Homo sapiens: one gene and its partners. The protein of the gene in region 2 purifies or fractionates together with the protein of the main gene of each other region. This does not show direct contact. Each region holds a gene or a part of one and is shown on either strand. Other genes may lie near its edges. The genes, in order: RNF25, MINDY3, RPUSD3 and ZC3HC1.

The links.
Region 1: the proteins of MINDY3 (region 2) and RNF25 purify together in Homo sapiens (affinity purification with mass spectrometry; 3 studies listed by BioGRID and IntAct, with this or other methods). This does not show direct contact.
Region 3: the proteins of MINDY3 (region 2) and RPUSD3 purify together in Homo sapiens (affinity purification with mass spectrometry; 3 studies listed by BioGRID and IntAct, with this or other methods). This does not show direct contact.
Region 4: the proteins of MINDY3 (region 2) and ZC3HC1 purify together in Homo sapiens (affinity purification with mass spectrometry; 3 studies listed by BioGRID and IntAct, with this or other methods). This does not show direct contact.

Annotation. Positions count from the first base shown.
Region 1 is NC_000002.12:218,663,392-218,669,453, reverse strand, and holds the end of RNF25 (E3 ubiquitin-protein ligase RNF25), read left to right. Parts: intron 1-774; coding exon 775-849; intron 850-1,112; coding exon 1,113-1,215; intron 1,216-1,307; coding exon 1,308-1,375; intron 1,376-1,472; coding exon 1,473-1,542; intron 1,543-3,223; coding exon 3,224-3,295; intron 3,296-3,394; coding exon 3,395-3,538; intron 3,539-4,206; coding exon 4,207-4,299; intron 4,300-4,580; coding exon 4,581-4,715; intron 4,716-4,918; coding exon 4,919-5,497; 3' UTR 5,498-5,562; downstream 5,563-6,062. UniProt on the Homo sapiens protein: E3 ubiquitin-protein ligase that plays a key role in the RNF14-RNF25 translation quality control pathway, a pathway that takes place when a ribosome has stalled during translation, and which promotes ubiquitination and degradation of translation factors on stalled ribosomes.
Region 2 is NC_000010.11:15,857,122-15,864,740, reverse strand, and holds the start of MINDY3 (ubiquitin carboxyl-terminal hydrolase MINDY-3), read left to right. Parts: upstream 1-4,233; 5' UTR 4,234-4,441; coding exon 4,442-4,535; intron 4,536-5,940; exon of another isoform or gene 5,941-6,837; intron 6,838-7,049; exon of another isoform or gene 7,050-7,619. UniProt on the Homo sapiens protein: Hydrolase that can remove 'Lys-48'-linked conjugated ubiquitin from proteins.
Region 3 is NC_000003.12:9,840,683-9,848,818, forward strand, and holds the start of RPUSD3 (mitochondrial mRNA pseudouridine synthase RPUSD3), read right to left. Parts: upstream 3,327-8,136; 5' UTR 3,309-3,326; coding exon 3,208-3,308; exon of another isoform or gene 3,072-3,207; coding exon of another isoform or gene 3,043-3,071; intron 2,920-3,042; coding exon 2,783-2,919; intron 1,562-2,782; coding exon 1,517-1,561; intron 1,401-1,516; coding exon 1,301-1,400; intron 124-1,300; coding exon 16-123; intron 1-15. UniProt on the Homo sapiens protein: Catalyzes uridine to pseudouridine isomerization (pseudouridylation) of specific mitochondrial mRNAs (mt-mRNAs), a post-transcriptional modification necessary for their translation.
Region 4 is NC_000007.14:130,048,185-130,055,795, forward strand, and holds the start of ZC3HC1 (zinc finger C3HC-type protein 1), read right to left. Parts: upstream 3,191-7,611; 5' UTR 3,183-3,190; coding exon 3,037-3,182; intron 2,305-3,036; coding exon of another isoform or gene 2,259-2,304; intron 961-2,258; coding exon 849-960; coding exon of another isoform or gene 790-848; intron 1-789. UniProt on the Homo sapiens protein: Required for proper positioning of a substantial amount of TPR at the nuclear basket (NB) through interaction with TPR.

The DNA of each region.
Region 1 (6,062 bases), on a different chromosome or scaffold from region 2:
TATACAGACAGGAAAAAAAGAGGACGTAGACTAGCTACGATAGCCCAGATACTATTAGGTACTTTATGTAAACAAATCACCTTTTATCCTCACAATAACCCTAGAGAGTAGGTGTTATTATCTATATGTGACAGACAGGATAACTTAAGCTTACAGAGAGGTCACGTCCCAGATTGCATAGCTTGTAAGTGATTGGTACCTGTTAACTAACTCCGAGGCTGCTGGCTCTTCCATTACAACACAGCCTTTATACCACCCTAAATATGTTGTGTTGAGGTTGCTATCTCCTTTAAGAAGGCTTAGGGTGACTGGTGTTAAAACTGTATGTAGACAGTAGCCAAGGCACTGGGATCCACACTGGACAGTGACGTAGGGAAAGGTTGGAGTAATATTGGTAACGTTAATGCTAATGAATGAGTGCCATATCTCTAGACCAGAGATTCAGCCACTAAGGGGAATGAAACTTAAACAGGGAGTCAGGAAACCTGGCTCTGGGCCTAGTTCTACCTATGTTAAGCCTTGGTTAGTCATTTTACTTCTCTAGAATCCACTTCTTCATCTGTTGGCAGAAATGATGCCTAAAATTCTGATTTCCATGCCTTCTATTTGGCCAGTTGACAACTTAAGGTAACATATTCCTTGTTTTTAAGGAGTTTAGCAGGAGAATGCATTCTGGTAGATTGCCATTTTTCTACAAAGCCTGCCTTTATTGGCCTTAGCAGGCTTCCACAGGGAGAGCTGTAATGGTAAGTTAGTCTACTCCTGTCTCTCTAGGGTCCTTCCCTCTGAAGTTGAAGTATTGGAGTCCATCTATCTAGATGAACTACAGGTGATTAAAGGAAATGGCAGGTATGTATTCAACCAGTGGTGGGCAGGAGTCCCCCTAGTAATGAGGAGAGGTTCTATGCTGAATTTGGGTCTTAAGACATTGTGAGCCTTGATTCAGAGATAATATTTCTCTTGTGTAGACAAAAGCTATTCCTTTAATCCTACCCCAAAAGAAAGAGTCCAATGTGTACTTCCTTTGCCCACTTCACTGTCTCAGCCCCATCCTCCCCAGCCCCCAAGCCCCTACCCAGTCACATCTGCGTGTCCACTTGATCCACCTGCAGAACTTCACCATGGGAGATCTACATCACTTTGCATCCTGCCACTGCAGAGGACCAGGATTCACAGTATGTCTGCTTCACTCTGGTGCTTCAGGTCCCAGCAGAGGTGAAGCCCCTACTGTGTGGCAGCAAAGGGAGGAAGGGGAGAGTCCCTGGGGTGGACCGCTTCAGCAGTAACTTGTTATTTGCCCCCACTAGTATCCCCATGAGGTGCCACAGATCTCTATCCGAAATCCCCGAGGACTTTCAGATGAACAGATCCACACGTAAGTTGAACCTGTCAGAACAGGGAAAACTCAGCTACAGCTTTGCCCGGTGACAGAAATGGGCAGGTCTAATATTTGGTTTGCCCTCTTCCTCCAGGATCTTACAGGTGCTGGGCCACGTGGCCAAGGCTGGGCTGGGCACTGCCATGCTGTATGAACTCATTGAGGTAAGAGGTGCGCTAGTCTGAGATATGTTCTTTCCTTCAAGCTAGAGCAGTTTCTAGCTGTAAAAGGGAAACCATGGGCCTAGAATCTTAAACGGATCTGGAGTCATTAGGTAAGGCCTAAATTAATCCAGAGAAATGAGACTCTTCTATTTGAAAAACTTCCCAAAAGACAGTTCAGTAGCTTCTCCAAGTTGCCTATGCCAGCATCTTGACAGAAAATGACTTTTCCTCTTCACCTTGAATTTTTCTTGCATCAGTTTCAGTATATGTCTTGTTCTCTTGGCACTGGCAACTGAAAGTGGCAAAAGATACGCATCTTGCTTGGGGGCGTCTTAGCCATAAATGAACATTTGAAGGCTAGACTGCCATTGGACCTGACTAGAAAAAGTCATGGTTGGCCAGGCACGGTGGCGGGCATTTGTAATCCCAGTTACTTGGGAGGCTGAGGAAGGAGAATCGCTTGAACCCGGGAGGCGGAGATTGCAGGGAGCCAAGATCATGCACTGCACTCCAGCCTGGGCAACAGAGTGAGACTCCATCTCAAAAAAAAAAAAAAGAAAAAGTCATGGTTCCTTTACTGAAAGAGCTTATACACTGCTTGATGAAACAACCCACATGAAGCAACACCTGAAGCTCCAATATACACAGAAAACTTTTATTGTTTGAGATTAAAAATATAAAATTAAGTACAGTTTTATTTTCCCCTAGTTTGTTTATTTATTAATTTTAATTTTTTTTTTTTTTTTGAGACAGTCTTAGTCTGTCACCCAGGCTGGAGTGCAGTGGTGTGATCTCAGCTCACTGCAACCTCCGCCTCCCAGGTTCAAGTGATTCTCCTGCCTCAGCCTCCCAGATAGCTAGGATCACAGGCATGTGCCACCACACCCAGCTAATTTTATATTTTTAGTAGAGATGGGGTTTCTCCATGTTGGCCAGGCTGGTCTTGAACTCCTGACCTCAGGTTATCCACCTGCCTCAGCCTCCCAAAGTGCTGGGATTATAGGCATGAGCCACCACGCCCAGCCTCTCTTAGTTTAAATTTTTAAGAAAAATGTTCAGAATAGAATGAAGGTGGGTGGCTGAGAGTCAAAGAGAGTGGGTTTGATAGGCCACCGTAGCAGTCCTAGGTCAGGCCTCCACAATGCAGCCTTGGACTTTGTGGAATTCCAGAGTACACTATTAGCTATTCAAATAACAATTCAAATGCATAGTTCACAGCCCAACTCAATGCCTTGTGAATTCTCTGTCCATTTGGGTTGTCCATGCCTTGTCATGCTTTCTGAAAGCTGACTTAGAACAAACACATTGCCCCATGGGGGAGTGATATTGAAGGGGGCTAATCAAGAAAGGCCTCCCAGAAGATAAATTTTAATTGAACATTTTTTTTCTCAAGGTGTATTATTTTCATCTCCAAGATATATTAAAAGTGACTTAATGAAAGGAAAAACAATTAGGTTGAATTTTGAAACCAGGAAGATCAAATTTTGGGGGAGGGGCAGAGATGTGGAGAAGGATTGATTCCCAGCAGAGGGAGCGTCACCAAGCCAGAAATGCATAAACACAAGGTAACAAACTGGCCTGCTAGGAGCCAAGTCTAGCCAGTCACTCCTAGGAGTAGTAGACAGGCCTTGCTCACCGTTCTTCCCCCTACCCCCGTTTAATCAGTGTCTTCTCTCCTCAGAAAGGGAAGGAAATTCTCACAGATAACAACATCCCTCATGGCCAGTGTGTCATCTGCCTCTATGGTTTCCAGGTGGGTTTCTCTCTTGGGACCTGGCATTCTGTTTGGGACCAGCAGATGAGGGCTGTGAGAGAGCTCTGACTTAGTGCCCTACATCTGCCTTCCCTCTAGGAGAAGGAGGCCTTTACCAAAACACCCTGTTACCACTACTTCCACTGCCACTGCCTTGCTCGGTACATCCAGCACATGGAGCAAGAGCTGAAGGCACAAGGACAGGAGCAGGAACAGGAACGGCAGCATGCTACAACCAAACAGGTAGACCTCACTGCACCTGCACACTCATCTGACACCCTTAGGCACAGCCTTTCACAAACTTTTCCATCTCTCCACTCCAGTGGCTCTTCACTTTTTCAGGGTCATAGATACCCTTGAGATTAATGAACTCTTACCTCTGTCCAGAATAAAGGGCATCCTTTTTTTTTTTTTTTGAGATGGAGTCTCACTCTGCCACCCAGGCTGGAGTGCAGTAGCACAATCTTGGCTCACTGCAACCTCCGCCTCCTGGGTTCAAGCAATCCTTCTGCCTCAGCCTCCCGAGTAGCTGGGATTATAGGTGCGAGCCACCACGCCCAGCTGATTTTTGTATTTTCAGTAGAGACGGGGTTTCACCATGTTGGCCAGGCTGGTCTCAAACTCATGACCTCAAGTGATCCCGCCCGCCTCGGCCTCCCAAAGTGCTGGGATTACAGGCGCGAGCCACCGTGCCTGGCCAGGGCATCCTTATATACACTTACATATTGCATGCAGTTTCGGGGGGTTCCCAGATCTCTAGTTAGACAACCCGTGCTCTGTCCCAACTCACTGCTGAACCGGTGTCCCTGTGCCCTTTAGTCCCAGCCCTCTGCAGATTAGGTTGGCTGATGGGTCAGCACCAGGGGGCATCCTGGGCTGTGACACAGGCATATGATTTTTCTCTTTTTTAGAAGGCAGTCGGTGTGCAGTGTCCAGTGTGCAGAGAGCCCCTCGTGTATGATCTTGCCTCACTGAAAGCAGCCCCTGAACCCCAACAGCCCATGGTAAGGAGACTTTTTTCCAATCTGAGCCAGGAGTAATGGTATTTTCTAAAGAGTAAGGAATGGCATCTTGTCTGTGTCAAATGGGATCTCTGAAATTGGGCTTGAACTGCCTAGGACCTCTCTGCAAAGCCACATCCCCCACTGGCGGGAGCCTAAGACTCTGGGAGCCCAGACCTGAGGGGCAAAACCAGTGCAGATCTCCTGAGGCAGCCTGGGAGGAGTAGAGGTTTGAGTCAGCCTTCTGCTGTTCATTATTTCCTCTCTGCCATTCTTCCTTCCAGGAGCTGTACCAGCCCAGTGCAGAGAGCTTGCGCCAGCAAGAAGAACGCAAGCGGCTCTACCAGAGGCAGCAGGAGCGGGGGGGAATCATTGACCTTGAGGCTGAGCGAAACCGATACTTCATCAGCCTTCAGCAGGTGAGGGAAGGGCTTCCCAGTTGTCCTGTAATGCCACCAACCTTTCTACAAACCCCAATCAGCCATGGCCCCAGAGTGAGCTTTGTTCTAACCAGGAAGATGATAGGCTGATCGTGGTCAGCCCAGATAGTAGGAGAGGGGCCTGTAGTTCCCCACCTTGAGGAACTGCATCTCCCTCACTGCATCTTGTCACTTATTTCTAGCCTCCTGCCCCTGCGGAACCTGAGTCAGCTGTAGATGTCTCCAAAGGATCCCAACCACCCAGCACCCTTGCAGCAGAACTATCCACCTCACCAGCCGTCCAATCCACTTTGCCACCTCCTCTGCCTGTGGCGACCCAGCACATATGTGAGAAGATTCCAGGGACCAGGTCAAATCAGCAAAGGTTGGGCGAAACCCAGAAAGCTATGCTAGATCCCCCCAAGCCCAGTCGAGGTCCCTGGCGACAGCCCGAACGGAGGCACCCAAAGGGAGGGGAGTGCCACGCCCCTAAAGGTACCCGTGACACCCAGGAACTGCCACCTCCTGAGGGGCCCCTCAAGGAGCCCATGGACCTAAAGCCAGAACCCCATAGCCAAGGAGTTGAAGGTCCTCCACAAGAGAAGGGGCCTGGCAGCTGGCAGGGGCCCCCACCCCGCAGGACTCGGGACTGTGTTCGCTGGGAGCGCTCTAAAGGCCGGACACCCGGTTCTTCCTACCCTCGCCTGCCTCGGGGCCAGGGAGCATACCGGCCTGGTACTCGGAGGGAGTCCCTGGGCCTGGAATCTAAGGATGGTTCCTAGCAGGACTTGGTGGGGGGAACAGGGAATTGGGGATGGGAGGGAGGCAATAAAGATATTTGGCCTTCTTTGGCTTTCTTTGCTTAGCAGCGCCTAGCCTGTGAGGAATGGCTCTTTTTCTCAATTCCTAATAAGATTGGGGTGTGGCAGAGCAGCCCCCAACTTTGCTCTGAAGTCTGTTCTCCGAAGAGCTGGGTAAAGAGGGTCTGACATCTCATCAGCTAGTATAGTGAGTTTCAGGGAAAACTAGTGGGATGTCAGCATGTAAGCAGAGTCCTTAGGACCCACCGTTAACAACTCATTGTGTACACACCCATGCCTGTCCATTATTTATATACATAGAATGCCTTTAGGTAGAGGAATTTAGTTTCCTGTTTTGTGTCTCATCTCTTTATCTTAGGCTATGCCCCATCATTTGTATATGTGGTTGCCTGACTGACCCCTGTAGGCACCTGTGATTGCAGCCCGTCTTACTCAAGTACCAATCCAGTGATGAAGGGAGATGAGAGAGCAGAGTAGTGTGGCAGATGTTTATTGAGCTAGAGGAGGAGAGCTGAGCTGAGCCCAG
Region 2 (7,619 bases):
GAGCTTTTTGTAGATCATGGCACCATTCACTGATATATGAAACATTGAGAGTAAAGCAGGGTTTGTGGGAAGAGTCATGTTTAATTTGGCACATATTAAGTTTGAGGTGCCTATGACACATCCAAGTGTGTAAATATTATATGGTTACTTTATATAGCTAGTCTTGTGTTAATGTACAAGTTGGAATTTTATCTTCTCATTTCATAATGTTAGCACAAGTGCTAAAATGGCAAATGACCTCTTTTATTCTATGTCTTAAAGAATAATGCCATAATTATTTCTCTATTCCATACACGTTTCCGATATTCTTTTTCTCCCCATTATCCCCATACATTTCAAGTTAAAGACAGCCACTTTTTAGAATCATAGAAGTGTACAGGACCTGCAGTGAATATGACCTTAAGAAGTAACCTATATTTAGTTCTCTTATTTTACAGATGAAGAAAGCAAGGTACGGCTAGTTAAATGATTCACCCAACATCACACTTACTGCCCATATGGGGACTAACATTCAGATTTTCTAATTCCATTTCAAGAGACGATTTCATTAGACCCCTGATTCCCTAACAGTATTTTGCAGAACATAAATTATATAAGAAGTTCAGTGAATGAAATGATTCAAATGTGTCTGTTAACATTAAACACAATCCCCACTCCTGGAGAGTTGCAGTGAATGACCTGTTTAAATTTATTTAACCCAGCATTTAATGACACTTCCCCTTTACCACCATGTATTAATGTCAGTAGGAGATGCAATGGGGAGTGCTACACTATGCCACCCTTGAATATGATGTTGGTGAGTCTGAAAGGGACTTGTTTGCTCAGCTGGACAAGTATTATCCTGCTGAGATAAGGTTAGGATGATGCAGAAGGAAGTAGTTTCATTTGCTTTGGTAGATTTATGCTGCTATTGGAAGGCAGAGGACATACAAATGAAAAAGTTTTAGTAATAAATGAGTATGGGATTGTTTTAATGACCCACCTAAATGTTATTAATCTTATGACAGGGTGAGTTTTTGAAATATTTGATTTCTTCTAGGTAAGGAGTAATGTAAATACACTAAATTAGGAGTCCAGGGTTTCCAACTGGAGAATTGTACTTTTCATGTTAGTTGCTAGGAACTAGGCAATAAAGTTGTTGTGCTTTTATCTGGCAAAAAAGTTTGAGGAAAGACAGGAAAATAATTAAACAGAGTTAGAGTTTAATGCTGAGTAATTAATTTTGTTGCCTGAAGTAGTAAAGATGGATAAAAAGAATTCATTATAATGGAAATCTCAGCCCAGTTTTATGGAAGCACCCTGACTTGAATTTGAAAGAAACAGAAGTATTATTAATAAAACTTACATATAAATAGGAAGTGAAAGATTATTAATGCAACCTATATACACCTCAGTGATACAAGTTTAATCGAAACCATAGACAGTCCTGAGAAAAACAATATGCTAAAATATGAAGTGTTATAAATACATGAAAGAACATTTACATAATTTTCCAAGTCATTATAACAAGAGAAAGGCATTTTCATCCAGCACCAGGTATAGATGCAAAACGTGATTCACTTAAATATTTATTTATAGATAATTACTGAATAAGAACAATTTTGATGAATATTAATTTCTATTTAAATGTTATACCTAATGAATAATTAAGCCAATAATTTAAAAGTAAAATATTCCTTGTTAAAGATATGTCCTGCTAATTAAAAAATTTAAAAGATTACACATAAAAATTATAATGTGGGCCAGATGTGGTGGCTCACGCCTGTAATCCCAGCACTTTGGGAGGCTGAGGTGGGTGGATCACCTGAGGTCAGGAGTCGAAGACCAGCTTGGCCAACATGGTGAAACCCCATCTCACTAAAAATACAAAAATTAGCCGGGCATGGTGGCGGGTGCCTGTAATCCCAGCTACTCAGGAGGCTGAGGCAGGAGAATCACTTGAAACTGGAAGGTGGAGGTTGCAGTGAGCCAAGATGGTGACACTGCACTCCAGCCTGGGCAAAAGAGCGAAACTCCATCTCAAAAAAAAAAAAAAATATAATGTGGAAGTGGAAAGGACATTCATATAAATGTCTATCCAGGATTTTGCCAGCATCACTGTAGCTGGAAACTAAGAAAAATCATAGATCAAAAAATTTCTCGTTTAAAAAAATACAGTTTGAAAGTACAATTTTTTGTTTTTTCATAACAAAGTAATCAAACTTATAACTACTATCTATATTAATGTAAAGGAAACAAATGTAGTGTTATATACACTACACCATTAATATTTACATACATTAATGGAGAAAGTCAAATGTGGAAACACTTCTGAACTTAGAAGTCTGCCAGTTATGAGCTCTATGTACATAGACCCTTCTGTGTCTTTCAGGAAGTGGAAGAATTACGTAAATTGTAATCAGCATGCGAATATTAGATATTTAACTGGAGCAGTCAGTACTACTTCCCCGATCTCTCACTTGCTGAGAGATAATGAATTCTTTATTTCCAGTAAAGGCAAGTTTTGTTCCTTGGAATCGTAATTATTGAGATCCAGTGATGTTCAAGGCCCCATGCTAGAATTATGAATAGGCAGCTCTTTGCTTCCATAAATTTATATCCCAAGAGAAAAGCAAATAACTCTTTGCAAATACAATGATGATAGGAATTGTCATAAGCAAGTTACACATAAGGTACTATGAAGCCTCAGAAATTATAATTATTACTTTCAATTGTAATGACTGGAGAAAGTTTGGCATGCACACTCTGACATGAAGGATAGGTAAGATTTGATTTGCAAAAACAAGGCAAGGGATATTCTAAAGGGAATAAAGATCAAAAGGAATGCTATGGCTCTACTACAGGCACTTTGGGCAAGTCCCTGTAATTACAGTAAAGGGTACTGAAGAAATAAAATTAAATTAATTAAAATAAAATTAGAAATAACGTATAAATAGGAAAAAATAGCTAGTAATAAAGCATAAATTAACAAAACCTTATTTGCAATCTAAAAGATTTTAAATTAAGGGTTAATTTTAATTAGCCAAATGCAAGGGTATTCTACAATGAAACTGCATGTTTTTGAAATTAGAGAACATAACGTATTATACTAAAATACAACTGGCTAGAATTTATGGGTAAAAAAGTCAGAACTACTGTTGCATCAAATTCCCACAAAATGGCTTCTTGAGGTAAAAAAAATACCCACTGTTGCATAAATGCCTTCCATGTGCTAGGAAGTACACCAAATCCTTTGTATGTGTTACTTTTTCCATTTATTCCTTACAATATATGAAATGTATGCAATCTCCCTTTTAGAAAGAAAAAAGCCTAGGTAGATAGTAGGTAACTTGCTAGTAAGTGCAAAAGGTAGGAATATGGGCCAGTATGACCCACAGCTTGGCCTCTTAACTATTGCATTACTGCATCCCAAAGTAATATGGTTTCCAAGGAGTACAGAAACCTTACAGAACCAAAATAAAAGCATGTATTTTTTTTTAAATCAGATTTTGCCCTTTCGTTTTAAATTCAAAGCTCGGGCAATACAAGCCCTCTTTTTTTAAGCAGCACAAACATAAGTTTTCACATGAACTCAATTTAACTGCTAGTTAATGAGTAAAACCTAAACTTTAGTCCAGGTGTTGCCCACACACTCTGCAGTGTCAAAAACTGGAGATGAAAATGCTGTAACATTTACAAACAGGTTGCTCTGAATTTGTTTCCCTACAAATACCTTGTAATTCTGCGTTGCAGCTGGTGGAAGCATTTCTAATGCACATTATGCCACATTCTTTGCCATGTTTTTAGGTAATAGTTGGTCTGACTTTGATTTATTGAAGTACAGAGGCGGACAGCCTCCAGCTTATGAGAAGCGCCCTACAAAGGCACGGATGTTACCGCACTGTGACTCAACTATTGCCTTATAGTTCTAGTTTTGCAAAATTAATATTGAAAAATACAAGCAATGGGCATATGTTCTAATTCCTAGTGCCTGGGCCTCAGAGCCTCCAGCTTAGCCCAGAGCAGTGCGTAGAGGAAGAAGGTATTCCTGGAGTTTAGAAACACGCCGACGCCCCTTCCCAATACAAAAACTACCACCCCACCAAAGGGTCCCAGACAGTTCAGAAAGGTCAGAAGCTACTTCCACCGCTTTCCGTGCCTGTTTCCGCCTCCAATTTCACTTCCGGGGAGGGGACTTCCGGGCCCTCAGCCTTAAGGGGCGGGAGTTAAAGAGGAGTCGGAAGTGGCACCAGCACTTCCGGTACGGAAAACTCGCTGCTGCCCCAACCTGGCTTGACAGGCTTGGTCTCTGCAAGTGGCTCTCAGCCCCTTCTTCTTTCCTGCCTCACCTTCCAATTCGTTTGCCGCCGCCGTCCCGCAGCTGCTGTTTCCGGAGTTGCCCCTTCCCCATGTTCCGGGGCAGGAGTCCGCAAAGCGAAGATCCGCCCGCCGGTTCCTCATCATGTCCGAACTGACTAAAGAGCTGATGGAGCTGGTGTGGGGCACCAAGAGCAGCCCCGGTCTCTCGGACACCATTTTCTGCCGCTGGACGCAAGGTACCCTGGCGGGGCTCTCACACTTGCAGCCGCTGCTTCTTTTGCCCTGCGAGAGTCCGCCTGTGACGCCTCTCGCTCCAGCCCCTCGCGTGCCCCGCTCTCTGCCCCAGTCGCCGTGCTCAGCGCTGAAGCTGGACTTTCTAGACACGCCCTGCCTTGCCTTGGTGGGGAGAGTTTGAGTAGGAGAATGGTTACAGCTGCCACTAAATACCCGCAGCGCTCTTTCCATCCTCCGGGCTGCCCTTCGGCTGGGGAGGAGGAGAGGGTGGCCCCTTGCTGGGTTGCAGGGCGTGACACGGAAGATGCGCCCCGTGCCCCGGTGTCACTTTCTCAAGGGGTGCTGTGGCCTTCCGCATCTTTACCCCCTAACAGAGCTGTCTATTGGTGGTGGTTGGTCTATTTTTGGTGAGAAGGAGGGACGTCCAAGGGAAAGTCCAAGTGGCTAATTCCAAAAAGCAGTTTTTTGTTTGTATTGTCATTATGTGGTTAGGCGTGGTAGTCTGTGTATAAACACTGTTATTTGCTAAAAAGTGTACTCTTGGCCCAAAGTATCCCCGTTTTTTATATGGTTTATTATCTGTCACGGTTAAAAAAGGAATATGGATCATAGTACTTCCTCGGCCGGTATGCTTGTAACCCAGACAGGACTTTTACTTACATGAAGAGTCTTAGTACAAATAATAATGAAATAAAATAAGCATTTATTGAATTCTTGCACTGTAACAGGCTGGGCGCTTTATACTAGTAACTATCCCTAATTCTTAAGTTTGGATAGGCAAACAACTGACACATTCCTAAAGGTGACTTAGGAAAGATGATGATGAGGTTAAAACATAACCTTGAGTCAGAAGGATCAATAATTTATGTATGTAAAACACTATTATTATTAAAACATCTATTTAGGGAACACCTGTTCCCGAAATAGATTGGGCGGAATTTTGGCATAGTAAATATAAACCCCTATTTCAAAACGTGTATTTTGTAACAAAAATTCAGGATTTACGTAATCTCTCCCTCCCTCCCACATGTTTGTTTTAAGAGCTGGTAAAATTACAATTACGATGTATTGTTAAGTTGGGATATTTAGTCCCTCACTGTTGCTTTGCAGGCGAAAAAAATTAGTTGTAAAGGTAAATGACTGGGCCAAAGTTGCACAAATCGATAGAACTGGGAGTGGATTCCAGGTCTCTCGATTCCTAATATACCTCTGTTTTCATTATCTTCCTTTGAGTTCCCAAACCCTACATGTAATGACTTGGGCTCTTTTTTTTCACATTCAATTATGTCAGTTACCTAATCTTGGGCTTCTTAGAGGGAGATTTTATTTTAACACTTCCCACTTTGACTTACTTATTCTAATAGTAAGCAGCTCTAAAATACTGTGAAAGACTAAGAAAAAATTTACTTCCATTGTAATCAGTTAACATTTATTAAACATTTTACAAAGTAGAATAAGATAATATTCAGCCCTGTTTATATTTATACTGTAATGCAAATACAAGGAAGATTCAGGGTGGCAGTTCTAGTAATGGTTAAGAGCACAGTCTGGAATAGATGTACTTGGTTCAGGTTCATGTGATTTAGCTTATTTAAGCCTCAGTTTCCTTCTCTGTAAAGTACAGATAATAGACCTTACAGAGTTATTGTGAGGATTAGAGGCCATGTAAATAATTTAGGTGCTTAGCACACTATCTGACGTATAGTGAACACTCAGTATATGGTAGCTGTTTTTATATTATTTTAAAAAGTGTTTAATTGTAGACTATGCCAAATTCACTCTTTGGCTTTTTCCTGACAATTACAATAAGTTGTTTATTTGATGGCTAATCATTATTCTAAATAGAACTTTATAATGACTTATTAGAACGCTCTGCCACCTTTAATCATGCAGAAATTCTTTAACAGGATTAGTTCCATCAGTACCATTTCAAAATAAAGGATTTCTTTCTTTTTTTCGTTTACAGGGTGCAGTTAGTTATATTTTGGATATGTAGCTCTTCAAGGCCTTACACTGATTAAGATTTTAAGGCAACCAAACATATATTTTTGAAGTTATCGCCTCTGAATCAGAGGGGTCCTGTTACTGGTTTTGATATGTTAACTGTTGTATTCATTTGTTTGTTCTTTGAGGCCATTGCTAAATATTGCTGTGGCAGTCCTTTGGGATTGTGGGAACAGGCACAAGACACTGCTTTGCTGCATTACTAATGTGACATCAACTCTGGCTTTATTTCATAGTCTGTGATCGTGTCTTCAGTTGACAACTGCAGTCTCATTAGTTTTCTGGAAGCAAGATACAGATGTAAGATGTTTGGCATGAATATTTATACAATTATGTCTAGAGATATTTCATCTATAAAATTATATTGATTGATCAAGTTAAATTCTTTTGATATGGTTGTTAAAACAATAAGCTGCAGGAGTGGCACATAGTTGTTTTTAATTGGCTTGACATTTTTAGATAATTCTCTTCTACAAATCCCTGTTCGTTTTAAAAAATGCGGGGTGTTTTTTTTCTTCTTCTTTTTTTGGGCAGTTTTAATTTTAAAGGCAATAAGCCATGTAATTTAAGGGCTTAAAGTTGGCAGGGTTTTATTTTAACGTGAAAATTTATTCTTCTCTCTGCTTTCCTCCTGCTCAATTGCCTATAGTACTTTTTAAAGAATAGCATATAATTTTCACTTCCTTAGCTCATTAACACTATTTATCCTCCCCCCTTCCCACAAACTACACCAGTATTCCAAGCTCTTACAGTTGAGAGTCAGTAGGGTGGGAGGGAAGACAAACAGTAAATATAACGTAGCATAAATTACACATGTACAATAAATAGTTTGAAGATGAGGAAATACAGAGTTCTGGGTGGGGTGTCCTGGTCAGGCCTCATTTTAAGATGAGATTTGAGCAAACACTTGGAGTCACTCAGCTAGTCATGCAGAAGTCGGAAGAAAGAGTGCTCCAGGCAGAACAAATGGTAGTTATAAAAAACTTCACAGAAAATACACTTGGTCTGTTTAAGGAACAAGAAGGAAGTTAGTGTGGCAGGAGGGGGAATAAAGGAAAAGGAGAGTAATAAAAGATGATATA
Region 3 (8,136 bases), on a different chromosome or scaffold from region 2:
CCCAGCACCTCTCACCAGTAGGTGGCTGTGGGCCTTTGGGCTCTCCGTGCATGGGTGAAGTACTTCTGGAGGCGACTAGCTGTCTGGGGACAGCTGGAGAGGAGTACAAGCCCAGAGCTTTCTCTGGAATAAGCAGACAAATCACACAAGTTAAAGTCCCTTGAACTCGCCCACTAAAAAGGAAACTCTTAGGAACACTGACCTGCTTCAGGCCAAACACTAACACCAGGACTATAACCTAGACCAACTCCTGAGAAACAAGTAAGGTTTCCCCTTCTTTGATAACAAGACTATGTAGCTTAATGTGTTTCTCATTTTGCCCCGGCCCCCAGGGAACTCAGAGCCAAATGTCGTAACGATTGTCTACCATGTGCCAGAATTCTACTAGAAATTCTGTACATATTAGCTCTTAAATAAGTTCTCTACAAAAAAGCTCATGAGTTTGTGGAACTGCAGAAATATTTCATCTCAAGTACCATCTTTAATTGATGGCAGTTAGAGGAAAGAGTATCATGGATCGACTAGCAATGCCTGCCACGAGTACCGTCATGGAGAAATGACTGCACACTGAGCATAGGTATTATTTTCTCTATTTTACCATTAGGGGAACTGAAGCTCAGGGAGGGTATTTGTTTTGTTTTGTTTTTTTGAGACGGGGTCTCATTCAGGTTGTTTAGGCTTGCGTACAGTGGCGGGATCTCAGCTTATTGCAGCTGCCATCTTCTGAGCTCAGGTGATTCTCCCATCTCAGCCACCCGAGCACTACAGGCATGTGCTGCTCTGCCCAGCTAGGTTTTTGTGTGTGTGTGTGTGTGTGTTTTATTTTGTTTTTTAAGTAAAGATAGGGTTTTGCCATGTTGCCCAGGCTGGTCTTGAACTTCTGGACTCAAGCAATCCTCCCACCTCGGCCTCCCAAAGTCCTATTGATTATAGGCATGAGCCACCACGCGGAAAGTTTTGTTGTTGTTTTTCCAGAGATGGGGTCTATTTTGCCCAGGCTGGTCTCGAACTCCTGGGCTCAAGTGATCCTCTTGCCTTGGCCTCCAGAAGTGTTGGGATTACAGGTGTGAGTCACTGTGCCCAGCGTCAGGGAGGTGTCATGCTTTGCCTGGTATCACACCATTTGTACTTGAGGATTTGAACCCAGAGCCATCGGCTTCCTCTTCTTCACAGTACTTGTATCCACCTCTATGATCTCAAACCTTCCCATGGAAAATGTCTCAGCTTATCCCCAAGCAGCTGTTTCCCCACCACAGATGGATGCCTGTACTCCTAGCTTCCTGTCACCCCTACCACTTACTTCCCAGATGCTCGGACAACCTGAAGCTCCTGCTCCCTGAGCCCTAGGGACTGGCTCAGCTCTGGCAGCACTGAGAACAACGTCAGCTCTCCTGGTTTTCCTGGAAAGTAAGAAAGAAAAATTACAAGAGGCCAAAGCTTCATGCCTTCACTTTTCCCTCCCTCAGTCACGAAACCCCCTTCCGCTGCATTCCCTTCCCACATCCCCGGCCCATACCTGTCACTGGTAGACCCTGTGGCTTGTTCAACGTCACTAGAGGTCCTGAAACATACATCACACGAACATCAGCAAAAGCAACGGTAACCCTTTATGCAGCACTAAAGAGTTTCCAGAGCACTTTCTCACGCATCTTAGCACATGTCCCCATCATGACTCTCAGACATGAGTTAACTACCCCACACCAAATTCAACTTCTTTCTGTTCCTCTGCCACCTCAGAGCCTCGGCACTTGCTGTTTCCTGTCCCCAAATTTCCCAGGTCTGGCTCCCTATCATCTTGGCTCAAATGTCACATCACGGAGAGGTCTGAATCTCCAATCTAATGTCTGCCTTCCTCCTGCAGTTCCTCACCATCATAACACCCTGTTTTAGTTTATGCATAGCACTTACCACTAGTAACTTGTTCATTTATTTTCTGACATCCATTTCTCCCGTTAGAGAGAAATCCATTTCTCCCCTGAGAGCAGAAACCATATCTATCTTTTTCAGCACTGTATAGCCTGCCTAGAACAGTGCCTGGAACATAGCATATGTTCAAGAAATAGTTGAGAAAAGGAATAAATCACTGAATAGAGAGTGGGGTTCAGAGAAATTCAGTTATTTTCCTAAAGCCGCACAGCAAGCTGATCACAGAGCCTAGGTATGTCTGACTCCAAAGCCTGTGTTTTGTCCGTCGATAAATAATCATTATTTATTTATTTATTTATTTAGACTGAGTCTTGCTCTGTCATCCCAGGCTGGAGCGCAGTAGCACGATGTCGGCTCACTGCAACCTCTGCTATCCGGGTTCAAGTGACTCTCCTGCCTCAGCCTCCCGAGTAGCTGGGATTACAGGCGGACGCCGCCACACCTGGCTAATTTTTGTGTTTTTAGTAGAGACGGGGTTTCACCATGTTGGCCAGGCTAGTCTCGAACTCCTGACCTCAGGTGATCCGCCCGCGTCAGCACCCTAAAGTGCCGGGATTACAGGCGTGAGCCACCGCGGCCAATAAACAATAATCTAGTATAGCAACTCCCGTAACTGAGCGCCGGCTATGTGCAAGGCTCGGTAGTTATTTGCATCTTCTCCCCACTCTTAACCCTACTGCATCATGGCAGTAGGGTTAAAAGCGGGGAGAGGGTGCAAATTAGGTGGCTTGTCCCAGCTCATGCTGCTAGTGGGAGGCAGAAGCAGGGCTGATCCCGTGGCTTCAATGGAGAGCCCAACTGCACGCCGAGGCAGTCCCCTCCCGGTCCTTGTGCGGCCGTGCCTCTCACCCCTCACCTTTCCGGTCCACCACGGCTGCCCGCAGCGCATCAACCAGCTCCTCCCGACTGAGGTTTTTTGGCAGCAGCCCCGCGAAGGGCTGGTCCCCGAGGGGCCCCGACCGTTGGCAGGAGCCGCGGGGTTGCCTCTGATGCCTGGACAAGGAGGGAGAAGCAATGGGAGTCATTCCATCCCGAGGTGCCACCCATTCCTATCTCCGGACGCCTCTTCCCAAATCCTGCGGCCTCTGACAAATGCCTCACAATGTCTGGGCTGACCTCGAAAATTCAGGTACGACCGGTCCCATTCTACAGCGGAGGGCACCGAGGCTCAGAGAGGCCAACGGGGCTGTTTTCGGGTAACATCTACCTGATCCAGATCCCGCACGTGCCTTCCCCCTGCCCTAGCCTCCGTCCCGCATGAGAGAGGGGGTACTTAATCACCGGGCTTCGGTGCCAAAGCCTGCGTCCTCGGGCACTGGGCGGACACCCAGGCCCCGCCGCCAGCCACTCCAGAACCGGCCCAAAACACGGCGGCCGTCCATCTCCCGAGCCAGGACAGCGCGCATGTGCGTCCAGAGGGGCAGACCCGCGCTCCAGCCAGCGCGCTGATTGGTCAGCTGGAGTGTCAATCGGAATGGTGACCGGGCGGGACTCAGAGCCTGAGGAGGCGGGGCTTTTCCTCCGCCCAGGAAGGAAATGCAGAAATGCCTTCCTATGCTTTTAGGGAGAGCGCTGTAGCAGAAGAATTTGATCTGATCAAAAAACCTGTCTTAGCAAAAAACCTGAAGCCGCCTTTGCAAAAATTATATTACAAAATTATGACAGCGAAAGAGATCTGATCTAACCAACCCGCAGCTTGCCTTTAACCTCTAAACGGTCCTTGGTCATTCCTGGGCTTGGGCCAAGCTAACTTTGGGAGAAATTAGTTCGTAGTCTAAATGATAATTGCCCTTCCCCCGAACTAAACTGGCTTCATAGAGTTAATGAAAGGCCACCAGGTTAGGAGTAGTAGAGGGACCTGAATTCTGCTAAGGGTTAGAGGTAACTGATTACCAGCGGTTATTCCGGAGGTCACAGTGTTTGCAGCTTCCCCAGCTCACGATTGTCCAACCTGAGATTGGCCTTTGGAGATGTCTTTCCAGGCTTTTGCATTTCTGACGGCCGGATCACCCCACCCGGACCCTCAACTCTTGGCTCTACTAGTCCTGTGGCCCCTCGAAGTCAGGAGATCGAGACCATCCTGGCTAACACGGTGAAACCACGTCTCCACCAAAAATACAAAAAAATTAGCCGGGCGTGGTGGCGGGCGCCTGTAGTCCCAGCTACTCGGGAGGCTGAGGCAGGAGAATGGCGTGAACCCGGGAGGCGGAGTTTGCAGTGAGCCGAGATCGTGCCACTGCACTCCAGCCTGGGCGACGAGCGAGACTCCGTCTCAAAAAAAAAAAAAAAAGAAAAAAGAAAAAGAAAGTAGAAGAACACAGAAAAAAAAGAATAATATAATGACTGCCCACATTCCTACCATCAGAATTAGTCATTGTGAAACAATATATATATGTATAGGTTTCCTGTTTTTCTTGTTTAAGAAATGAAAGGGATAAAAGTAAATTCCCCTTTACTGCGTGCTTCCAGTTTTCACTCCCTCCCCAGTCTCCACTTTGAGTTTGGTGTGAACATTTTCCTAATGTGTTTTGGTTTTTGTTTTTTGGAGACAGAGTCTCGCTCTGTCACCCAGGCTAGAGTGCAGTGGCCCGATCTCGACTCACTGCAACTTCCACCTCCCGGGTTCAAGCGATTCCCCTGCCTTTGCCTCCTGAGTAGCTGGAATTACAGGTGCGGTGCCCGCCACCACACCCGGCTAATTTTTTGTATTTTAGTGACGGGGTTTCACCATGTCGCCCAGGCTGGTCTCGAACTCCTGAGCTCAGGCAATCCGCCCGCCTTGGCCTCCCAAAGTGCTAGGATTACAGACGTGAGCCACTGTGCCCGGCCACTAATGTGTTTTTTTGCTTGCTCTGTCATCCAGGCTGGAGTGCAGTGGCACAATCACAGCTCACTGCAGCCTCAACCTCCCAGGCTCAAACGATCCTCCCACTTCAGTCTCCTGAATAGCTGGGACTACAGGTGTGCACCACCATACCTAGCTTTTTTTTTTTTTTTTTTTTTTTTTAAAGATATGGGGTCTCACGATGTTGCCCAGGCTGGTCTCAAACTCCTGGGCTCAAGATAAGAAAATAAAAATAACAAAATAATTTTTAAAAAATCAAACTCCTGGGTTTAAGGGATTCACCCACCTACTTCGGCCTCCCAGAGTGCTGGGATTAAAGGCCGCACGGGGCCTTTGACAGACACTTCTTTTTTTTTTTCCTTCGAGATGGAGTCTCACTCTGTCACCCGGGCTGGAGTTCAGTGGCACGATCTTGGCTCACTGCAACCTCTGCCTCCTGGGTTCAAGCAATTCTCCTGCCCCAGCCTCCCAAGTAGCTGATACTACAGGCATGCACCATCATACCTGCCTAATTTTTTGTATTTTTTAGTAGAGATGGGGTTTCACCATGTTGACCAGGCTGGTCTCAAACTCCCGACCTCAGGTGATCCACCTGCCTCAGCCTCCCAAAGTGTTGGGATTACAGGTGTGAGCCACCGTGCCCGGCCTTTGACGGACACTTTCTAATAGGCTTTTTCATCCAGCATTACACACCCCTATGAGGAAGGCAGGGTGGGTTGGGGCCCTGCCTTACAGATGAGGACACAGTGGCTGTTGTGGTTCTTTGTGTCCCTTAAAGGCATGCCAAAAGCTATGGGTGGGCTCAGAATGCCCCGGAAGGAAGTCAGATAACTGAAAAGAACACTTGCACTGGTCACAGGAAAACCAGCCTGAGCTGCCGGCAGCCTCTGGGAGGTGTTGGGATGGCCTGCCCCTGGTTTCCATGCGGGTCCTGACCCAGAGAGCAGGCCCCAGGGGAGTGGGGGTCAGCAGAGGCAGGATGGGGCCCGGTCTGCTTGTGAGGGAGTGCTGGGAGGGTGGAGTCTCACTCTTGAGGCACAGAGCTCAGCCAGCGGAAGAGGGGATGCAGGGATCAAGCCCCAGGCCCTGGGGCCTGAGGTGTGAGAGCTGTCTTTGATGGTTGAAGCCAGCCTTCCCAGGCCAGGCCAGGCCAGGCTGCTCTCTCTCCCCGAGGATGCATTTCTTGCTCTGTTATCAGCCCTGAGCTCTGAGAGAAGGGACTTTCTTTTTTTTTTTTTGAGACAGAGTCTTGCTCTGTTGCCCAGGCTGGAGTACAATGGCGTGATCTCGGCTCGCTACAACCTCTGCCTTCTGGGTTGAAGCGATTCTCTAGCTGCAGCCTCCCAAGTAACAGAGATTACAGGCGCCTGCCACCACACCCTGCTAAGTTTTGTATTTTCAGTAGAGAAAGGGGTTCACCATGTTGACCAAGCTGGTCTTGAACTCCTGGCCTCAAGTTATCCACCCGACTCGGCCTCCTAAAGTGCTGGGATTACTGTCATGAGCCACTGAACCTGGCCAGGAGGGACTTTCTTAAGAAGGTCACAAGAGGACTCAGCACCTGCCAACTCCCAAGTAGAGCCTGGGCAGGGGTGGGAGGTGTCCCCGGGGACCCCAGTGCACGAGAGCCCTGTGCCTGCACGGCCCTCCACCAGGAGGCCAGGCCTCAGAGGCAGGCCAGCATTGGAGCCACTTACCACATGAACAAATGTCTGTGTCCCCCCAAACTCATGTGTTGACACCTCATCCCCAAGGTGATGGCATCTGGAGGTGGCATCTTTGGGAGGTGATGGGGTCATGAGGGTGGGGCCCTTGTGGTTGGGATTAGCGCCCTTATACAAGAGGCCCCAGAGAGCTCCCTCGCCCCTTCCGCCATGTGACCACAGTGGGAAGATGGCAGGCATGACCCAGAAAGTGGGCCCTCACCAGACACCCTGTATGCCAGCTGATCTTGGACTGCCAGCCTCCAGAACTGTGAACATTATATTGCTGTTGTTAGAGAGACCCAATTTACAGTATTTTGTCACAGCAGCCCCAACAGACTAAGACGTATGACTGCAAGCTCTGAAAATGCAGCCAACACCACATGTTGGAATCATGATATTTGGGATGTGTTGGGGTAAACCACATGCATTAGTAAAATAAACTGTTCAACACCTGTGAAAAGGAGAGAAAAAATATAAATAAATGAAATAAACTATTACTTTCTGAAGGGGTGGGTTGTCCCTCCACACCTGTGGGTGTTTCTTGTTAGGTGGAACGAGAGACTTGGAAAAGAAAAAGACACAGAGACAAAGTATAGAGAAAGAAATAAGGGGGCCCAGGGGACCAGCGTTCAGCATATGGAGGATCCCGCCAGCCTCTGAGTTCCCTTAGTATTTATTGATCATTCTTGGGTGTTTCTCGGAGAGGGGGATGTGGCAGGGTCATAGGATAATAGTGGAGAGAAGGTCAGCAGATAAACACGTGAACAAAGGTCTCTGCATCATGGACAAGGTAAAGAATTAAGTGCTGTGCTTTAGATATGCATACACATAAAACATCTCAATGCCTTACAGAGCAGTATTGTTGCCCGCATGTCCCACCTCCAGCCCTAAGGCGGTTTTCCCCTATCTCAGTAGATGGAACATACAATCGGGTTTTATACCGAGACATTCCATTGCCCAGGGGACATTCCATTGCCCGGGGACGGGCAGGAGACAGATGCCTTCCTCTTGTCTCAACTGCAAAGAGGCATGCCTTCCTCTTTTACTAATCCTCCTCAGCACAGACCCTTTACAGGTGTCGGGCTGGGGGACGGTCAGGTCTTTCCCTTCCCACGAGGCCATATTTCAGACTATCACATGGGGAGAAACCTTGGACAATACCTGGCTTTCCCAGGCAGAGGACCCTGCGGCCTTCCGCAGTGTTTGTGTCCCTGGGTACTTGAGATTAGGGAGTGGTGATGATTCTTAACAAGCATGCTGCCTTCAAGCATCTGTTGAACAAAGCACATCTTGCACCGCCCTTAATCCATTTAACCCTGAGTGGACACAGCACATGTTTCAGAGAGCACGGGGTTGGGGGTAAGGTTATAGATTAACAGCATCTCAAGGCAGAATAATTTTTCTTAGTACAGAGCAAAATGGAGTCTCCTATGTCTACTTATTTCTACACGACACAGTAACAATCTGATCTCTCTTTTCCCCACATTTCCCCCTTTTCTTTTCGACAAAACTGCCATCATCATCATGGCCCGTTCTTGATGGTCGCTGTCTCTTCAGAGCTGTTGGGTACACCTGCAGACTTGAACAACAGACAAAACAGGCACACAAGGATTAATATGAAATTTATAATCGTAGTACTTCCAATCGTCTTAACCCAAG
Region 4 (7,611 bases), on a different chromosome or scaffold from region 2:
TGCTGCCAAGGCTGGAATGCAGTGGCGCGATCTCGACTCACTGCAAACTCTGCCTCCTAGGTTCAAGCTATTCTCCTGCCTCAGACTCCTGAGTAGCTGGGATTACAAGTGAGCACCACCACACCTGGCTAATTTTGTTTTGTTTTGTTTTATTTTATTTTATTTTTCTTTTGAGACAATTTTCCTAGTTGAGCCTTGAAATGACAGTGCCCTGACCAACCTTAATTGCAGTCTGTGAGAGACCCTGAGCCAGAGGACTCAGCTAAGCCATGCCTGGATTCCTGATCCACAGAAATTATGAAATAAAAACTGTTTGTTGTTTTAAGATCACTAAGTTTTGGGGCAATTTGCTATGCAGCAATAGGTAGCTAATACACAAAGGAAAATCTAGAAAGAGACATTATAGTAGTGTAGTCTCTAATAATCTAAAAAACATTAGATTATAATCCTGGATCTGCCATTTGCTAACAGGTTCATCTTGGGCAAGTCATATAACCTGCCCCAAACTGTTTCCTCTTCTGTAAAACAAGTATAATAATAATGCTTATTTTCATAGGTTTAAGGTCAAGATCGAATGTGATAATATATACAAAAACATACTATATACAAGTATTAGTTATTATTTCTTCTTTTCTCAGGCTCTTAGTTTTTTCTTCTGTAAAAAGAAAAGGTTAGATAACCTCAACTGTCCCTCTGAGTGATAACATATTAGGATGCTGACTTTCCTATATAATTTCTTACCAAGGTTTTATTCTTAAGTTTAAAGCATCACAGTAAGTGGTGTAATACCTTGGAGGAATTCTAGAAGCAGGCAGAAAGTGCAATTCACATGAACTAAAAAAGGATATAGAAAATGTTTCCACTCTGCTAAAGAAGGCTTCTTTGCTTGTAGATTCCAATGAAGGTTGTTCCGCTTGGGGTGATCCATTAACTGACTGGGATGTGGCAGACGTGTCCTTCCTAATATAAAGTGGCAAAACTGTTGGTAAACCTTTCACAGTACCCTCTGCTTAAATGTTATCTAGCTTCTCTACACATCGTATCATAAATCACACCAACGCTGGATTTTAAGCTTCCTAAAAATCATTTTACTCATGTCATTCCTCAGCTTATTATTTTCAATGGTTTTATAATACTTACTAAATAAAATCCAAATTTTTCAGTCTGGCATTCAAAACTCTTTACAGTTTACCCATATCTAAACTTCAATTTCTACCTCTACAGGGCTCCACTAATCCTAGCAAACTATTCTCCTCACTCACTCACTGTTCTCCACAAGTATTTGGCATAACTTTAGTAGACAGAAAATAAGACTCAAGACTTCAAGTATGCATTATACAATTTGAATCTCTTCAGAAATTCGACTTTTTTTTTTTTTGAGATGGAGTCTCGCTCTGTTGCCCAGGCTGGAGTGCAACGGTGCGATCTCGGCTCACTGCAACCTCCACCTCCCAGGTTCAAGCAATTCTCCTGCCTCGGCCTCCCCAGTAGCTGGGATTACAGGCGCGTACCACCAGGCGTGGGCCCGGCTAATTTTTTGTATCTTTAGGACAGACGGGGTTTCACCATGTTGGTCAGGCTGGTCTGTAACTCCTGACTTTGTGATTGGCCCACCTCAGCCTCCCAAAGTGCTGGGATTACAGGCGTGAGCCACAGCGCCTGGCAGAAATTCGACTCTTAACAGCAGAAAAAACAATTTTGATATTTCTACCTGGAGGGACCTTTCATACCCACTCCTTCCAAAAAAAAAAGAACCAATTAGAAAATTCGAATCAAAGATCTTCGGGAGATTTCATGAAAAAAAAATCAGGGAGAAAAAAACTCAGCAAAGCAATTCTCTCATTTTCAGTGGAAGGCATTTCAACAGTGCCTGGGGAATTGCTGAAAGACAAGCATTTATTTATTTATTTAGAGACGGAGTCTCACTCTGTCACTCAGGCTGGAGTGCAGTGACGCGATCTCGGCTCACTGCAACCTCCGCCTCCCAGGTTCAACCAATTCTCCTGCCTCAGCCTCCCGAGTAGCTGGGACTACAGGCGCGGGCCACCACGCCCGGCTAATTTTTTGTATTTTTAGTAGAGATGGGGTTTCACCGTGTTAGCCAGGATGGTCTTGATCTCCTGACCTCGTGATCTGCCCGCTTCAGCCTCCTCAAAGTGCTGGGATTATAGGCGTGAGCCACCGCGCCCGGCGACAGGCATTATTTTAATAAAAATAGGATTACATCAACGATTATAGCTCAAAAGAAATAAACTTACTCTAAGACTCTCAGAGATTCATAGAGAGCCTCAAGCGGGTGTGGTTCTAGGCCAAAAAAAATTCACAGCATCCATAAACTTGGATGGGTAAAAATGACATTTATTTCTCTCTAAATGACAAGATTTAGCATTTTCTTCAATTATGAATGAAGGTAAAAACACCATAGTAGTATTAGCAGTACCTGCTAATTTGTCACCAATGGAAATAATGTTCCCACATTATGGTGGTTGCATGTCTTCAAATACCTTTGTGCTCATCACTACTTCAAAATTATGGTTGACAACACATACTACTAGATATTATGGACTCTTTAATAAAAAGCATTGTTACTGCGTAACTTTTTCCTTTTACCATCTTGATAACTACATTCCAATCTAACTGGTTTCCTTTATAATCCTATGTAATTTACTTTAAGCATTTAAAAATATTCTGAGAGTTAATAAGCTTCTCCAGAGAGCCAAAGGGGTCCACGGCACAAAAAAAGGTTAAGAATCCCCAATTAAGAGAAGTCAAGTGAACTCATTCAGTTAACGGTCCTCTTTACTTCCAAAAATAATGTCCGATGACAAAATTTCGGCTGCGGTTGGGAATCTGGTACACCCCGAGGGGAAGATCAAAGCCGATCAAACATAGTAACCAGAGTTTCTTTCAGATTCTAAGAAGCCATCCCCACTGCCCGAGTCGCCGACCGAGGGGAACCTCCCCCAACCCGCCACCCCTTCCCCAAGCCTTCTTCAATCTTCCAACGCCGGACCCAGGGTTAACTCGTGAACTCACGCGTCCACGCCTCCCTCTTCCGGGGCAATCCCCTCATCTATCAGCTGCCGGATTTTCTGGGGGGTCCCTTCTGGGGAGCGAACTACTGCACCCCAATTCTTTTCAACCCCTACGGCAAACGCTTGTCCCTCACAGGGCGCCGCCATCTTGGTCCGCTGCCGAGTTGCTTCCCCGAGAGTTTGAAGGCTCCGGAACTTCCGTCCTGGGAGGTTAATATCCGCCTCTTGAGGCAGCCTGGCTGGGAAAGTCTAACCGCGGGGCCCACGCCTTTTCTCATCATTTTAGAACCTTAGAGCGAGCTTAAGGAGGGCTGTACTGTTTAGGACAATCTTGATTAATCGTTTCCTTTATCAACTAGCATATTTAGGTTGATAAGAGATTTTTAGAACGCTGTCAGTCCAAATTCAGCAGGGATGAGGGGCTCAACTTAATTTTCAAGTAATATTAACTAATACGGCCGGGCGCCGTGGCTCATGCCTGTAATCCCAGCGGTTTGGGAGGCCGAGGTGGGCGGATCGCCTGAGGTCAGGAGTTCGAGACCAGCCTGGCCAACATGGTGAAACCCCATCTCTACCAAAAATACAAAAATTAGCTGGACTTGCTGGCGGGCGCCTGTAATCCCAGCTACTAGGGAGGCTGAGGTAGGAGAATCGCTTGAACCCGGGAGGCGGAGGTTGCAGTGAGCCGAGATTGCGCCACTGCACTCCAGCCTGGGCGACAAGAGCAAAACTCCGACTCAAAAAAAATAAAAATAAAAATAAATTAACTCATACGACCCTCCTAAGTTGCACCTTTCTACAAGCGAGGAAATGGTGACCCTCATTGGAGAGCAAATAATTTAGAATCCTTGTTGGAAACCGTGTTATGGATGGATTTAGAAGTCTGTGGCATTTGACACTATTGATACTCCTTCCTTAGTCCAACAAATATTTATTGAAAACGTCCTATTTATTTTTTTTGAGATGGAGTTTCGCTCTTGTTGCTCAGGCTGCAGTGCAATGGCGCGATCTCGGCTCACTGCAACCTCTGCCTCCCGGGTTCAAGCGATTCTCCTACGTCAGCCTTCCGAGCAGCTGGGATTACAGGCATTCGCCAACACGCCCAGCAATTTTTTTTTTTTTTTTTTGTATTTTTAGTAGGGACGGGATTTCACCATGTTGGTCAGGCTAGCCTTGAACTCCTGACCTCAGGTGATCCGCCCGCCTCGGCCTCCCAAAGTGTTGGGATTACAGGCATGAGCCACCGCGCCCGGCCGAAAGCATCCTATTGATAGTCTCTAGGCACTAGCAATGACAGTCGTGAGCAAAGAAGCTGTAGATCTTGGTGGAGTTAGATGTCAAATTTTCCTATAGTTTTAAAATTATGATTACAAGTGCTCCAAGGATGTACCAAGGTTATAATAGGAGAATCTAATTTAGTTTGCACATTCTCCTGAGAAAAATCAGGTACTGGAGCTGAGACGGATGAGATTGAAGGGAAGAAATCTGTACAGAATCTTCCAACACCCCAGGTTGGAAGACTGATGTGACTAAACAATGGGCAAAGAGGAAAGTGGGATCACCTCCTACCCTTCCAGCACCCTACCTGTGGGCTCCTAACTCTATCAGTGTTCCCAGCAGCAGGACCTGCAACCTATTGATCCAATTACCTTTCTGCTCTTCCTAACTCCACCACCACCCTTGTTTCTTCTTTTCTTAGCCAGCTTAAATTCATTACTAATTGTTATCATCATCCCTTTGCAAAATTTGAACATGGGTTGAGACTTAGTTAATATGAAGGAAACATTGTTGATTTCACTATATGTAATAATGGCATTGTAGTTATGGTTCTTAAAAGCCCTTCTTTATTAGAAATGCATCTTGAAGTGTTTATAGGTGAATTGATATGATGTTTGGAATTTGCTTTGAAGTTATCCAGGAAAACATGTGGAGGAATAGATGAAAAAATATTGCAAAATTTTAAACTGTCGGACTTGGATGATAGAATTGTGGGATTCATTATATTATTCTTTCTGCTATTAAGTATGTTTGACAATATCATAATAAAAAGCAAAATAAATAAGCTAAAAAATACATGTTCTTGAATACCCTTTGAATTTCCTTGAACCTCTCTTGCTTAATAGTACTTACTTGACAAAACCTCAATCACAGTTGAAGTAAGTTCTCTATTATTGCTTCTGTACCCATACAACTAAATATGGCTAAAGAGAAATGACAAACTTGTCTCTTTATATTCTTGACTTCAAGTGGGACCTTAATTCTGCCCAGTAATTATACTACCTTTATCTAGTCCACTTCTCATCCCACTTTTCATAGATGACTTATTTTTATTTTTTATTTTTTTAAATTTATTTTTTATTTTTATTTTGATTTTTTTGCAGACGGAGTCTCCCTCTGCTGCCTGCTGGAGTGCAGTGGCACAATCTCGGCTCATTGCAACCTCTGCCTCCTGGGTTCAAGCGATTCTCCTTCCTCAGCCTCCTGAGTAGCTAGGATTACAGGCACCTGCCACCATGCTTGGCTAATTTGTCATATTTTTAGTAGAGACGGGGTTTTACCATGTTGGCCAGGCTGGTCTTGAATTCCTGACCTCAGGTGATCCGCCCACCTTGGCCTCCCAAAGTGCTGGGATTACAGGCGTGAGCCACCATGCCTGGCCACCTGGCTAATTTTTATATTTTTAGTAGAGACAGGGTTTCACCACATTCACCAGGCTGGTCTCGAACTCCTGACCTCAAGTGATCTGCCCACCTCGTCCTCCCAAAGTGTTAGGATTACAGGTGTGAGCCACTGCACCCACCTTCATAGATGACTATTATATACCTCTCTCCTCAAACACCTTCAATACTTCCACTTATCCATCCTCCCTTTCTGCTAATGACACACTCCTAGGAAAATACTGACTGTACAGTTAGCCATGGTAACAACCAGCAATCAGAGCCAGTTTTAAGTTCAATTGACCCATGATTACTCATCACAGTGAATGTGTTTTTGTAAACCCAATGAATGACAACTTCTTGATTCAGCCAATCACAAAGACTCACTTCAATAAGCACTCCTCTGAGTGCCAGCCACTCAACAATAGTTTCACCCAAGTTATCACTTCTACAAATGATGCTAACACACACCTTTGAAAGTTTGCCAATCTCTGAACTCCCCACTTTCTCAAAGTCTGATAGATTAGTAGTCTGGTCTGCTTGAAGACTGTGCCTCACCTGCATGGCTCTTACTGTTTATAGTAAGCAAGAAATTTGGCTTTGTGGTTTTTTTTTTTTTTTTTTTTTGAGACGGAGCCTTCCTCTGTCGCCCAGGCTGGAGTGCAGTGGCGCATCTCGGCTCACTGTAAGCTCCGCCTCCCGGGTTCACCCCATTCTGTGGCCTCAGCCTCCTGAGTAGCTGGGACTACAGGCACCCGCCACCACGCATGGCTAATTTTTTGTATTTTTTTAGTAGAGACGGGGTTTCACTGTGTTAGCCAGGATGGTCTCAATCTCCTGACCTCGTGATTTGCCTGCCTCAGCCTCCCAAAGTGTTGGGATTACAGGCATGAGCCACTGTGCCCGGCCGGCTTTGTGTTTTTATTTCGCATGATGAATGGTGTTCTCATCATCCTCTAACCGTACTTTACCTTCCCTCCTGTTACTATTGATCAGTGGTTCTCAAATGAGTGTGATATTGCCTGCCACAGGACACTTGGCAATGTCAGGAGACATTTTTGGTTGGAGTGGTGATAGAGGCCAGGAATGTTGCTAAGCATTTTACAACATCCAGAACAGCCTCGCCACAACAAAAAATTATCTCACCCAATATGTGCACAGGTTGAGAAGCCCTGCTGTAATCTATGTGCCTATCTAAGGCCAAACTTACACATTGGATCTAATTCCCCTTGCCTACTCAAGAACATTGTCCACCAATTCTCCCCTCCACTGCACATTTCCATTAGCAGCAAGATATTACTTCTCCCATCTTAAAAACATGCAAAACAGGCCAGGTGCACTGGCTTATGCCTGTAATTCCAGCACTTTGGGAGGCCAAGGGGGGCAGATCACCTGAGGTCAGGAGTTCAAGACCAGCCTGGCCAAAATGGCGAAACCCTGTCTCTACTAAAAATATAAAAATTAGCTGGGCGTGGTGGCATGCACCTGTAGTCCCACCTACTTGGGAGGCTGAGGCATGAGAATCGCTTGAATCCAGGAGGTGGAGGTTGCGGTGAGACGAGGTGGTGCCGCTGAACTCCACACTCCAGCCTGGGCAACAGAGCAAGACTCTATTTCAGAAAACAAGAAAACACCTTCTCTGCTTTTATTTACGGCAAAGGTCCTTCAAAAATTATCTATCCTAGCGCTGGGTGCAGTGGCTCACCTCTTTAATCCCAGCACTTTGGGAGGCTGAGGTGGGTGGATCACTTGAGGTCAGAAATTCGAGACCAGCCTGGCCAACATGATGAAACCCTGTCTCTATTAAAAATACAAAAAAAAAAAAAATTAGCTGAGTGTGGTGGCACGCACCTGTAATCCCAGCTGCTTTGGAGGCTGAGGCAGGTGAATCACTTGAACCTGGGAGGTGGGGTTGCAGT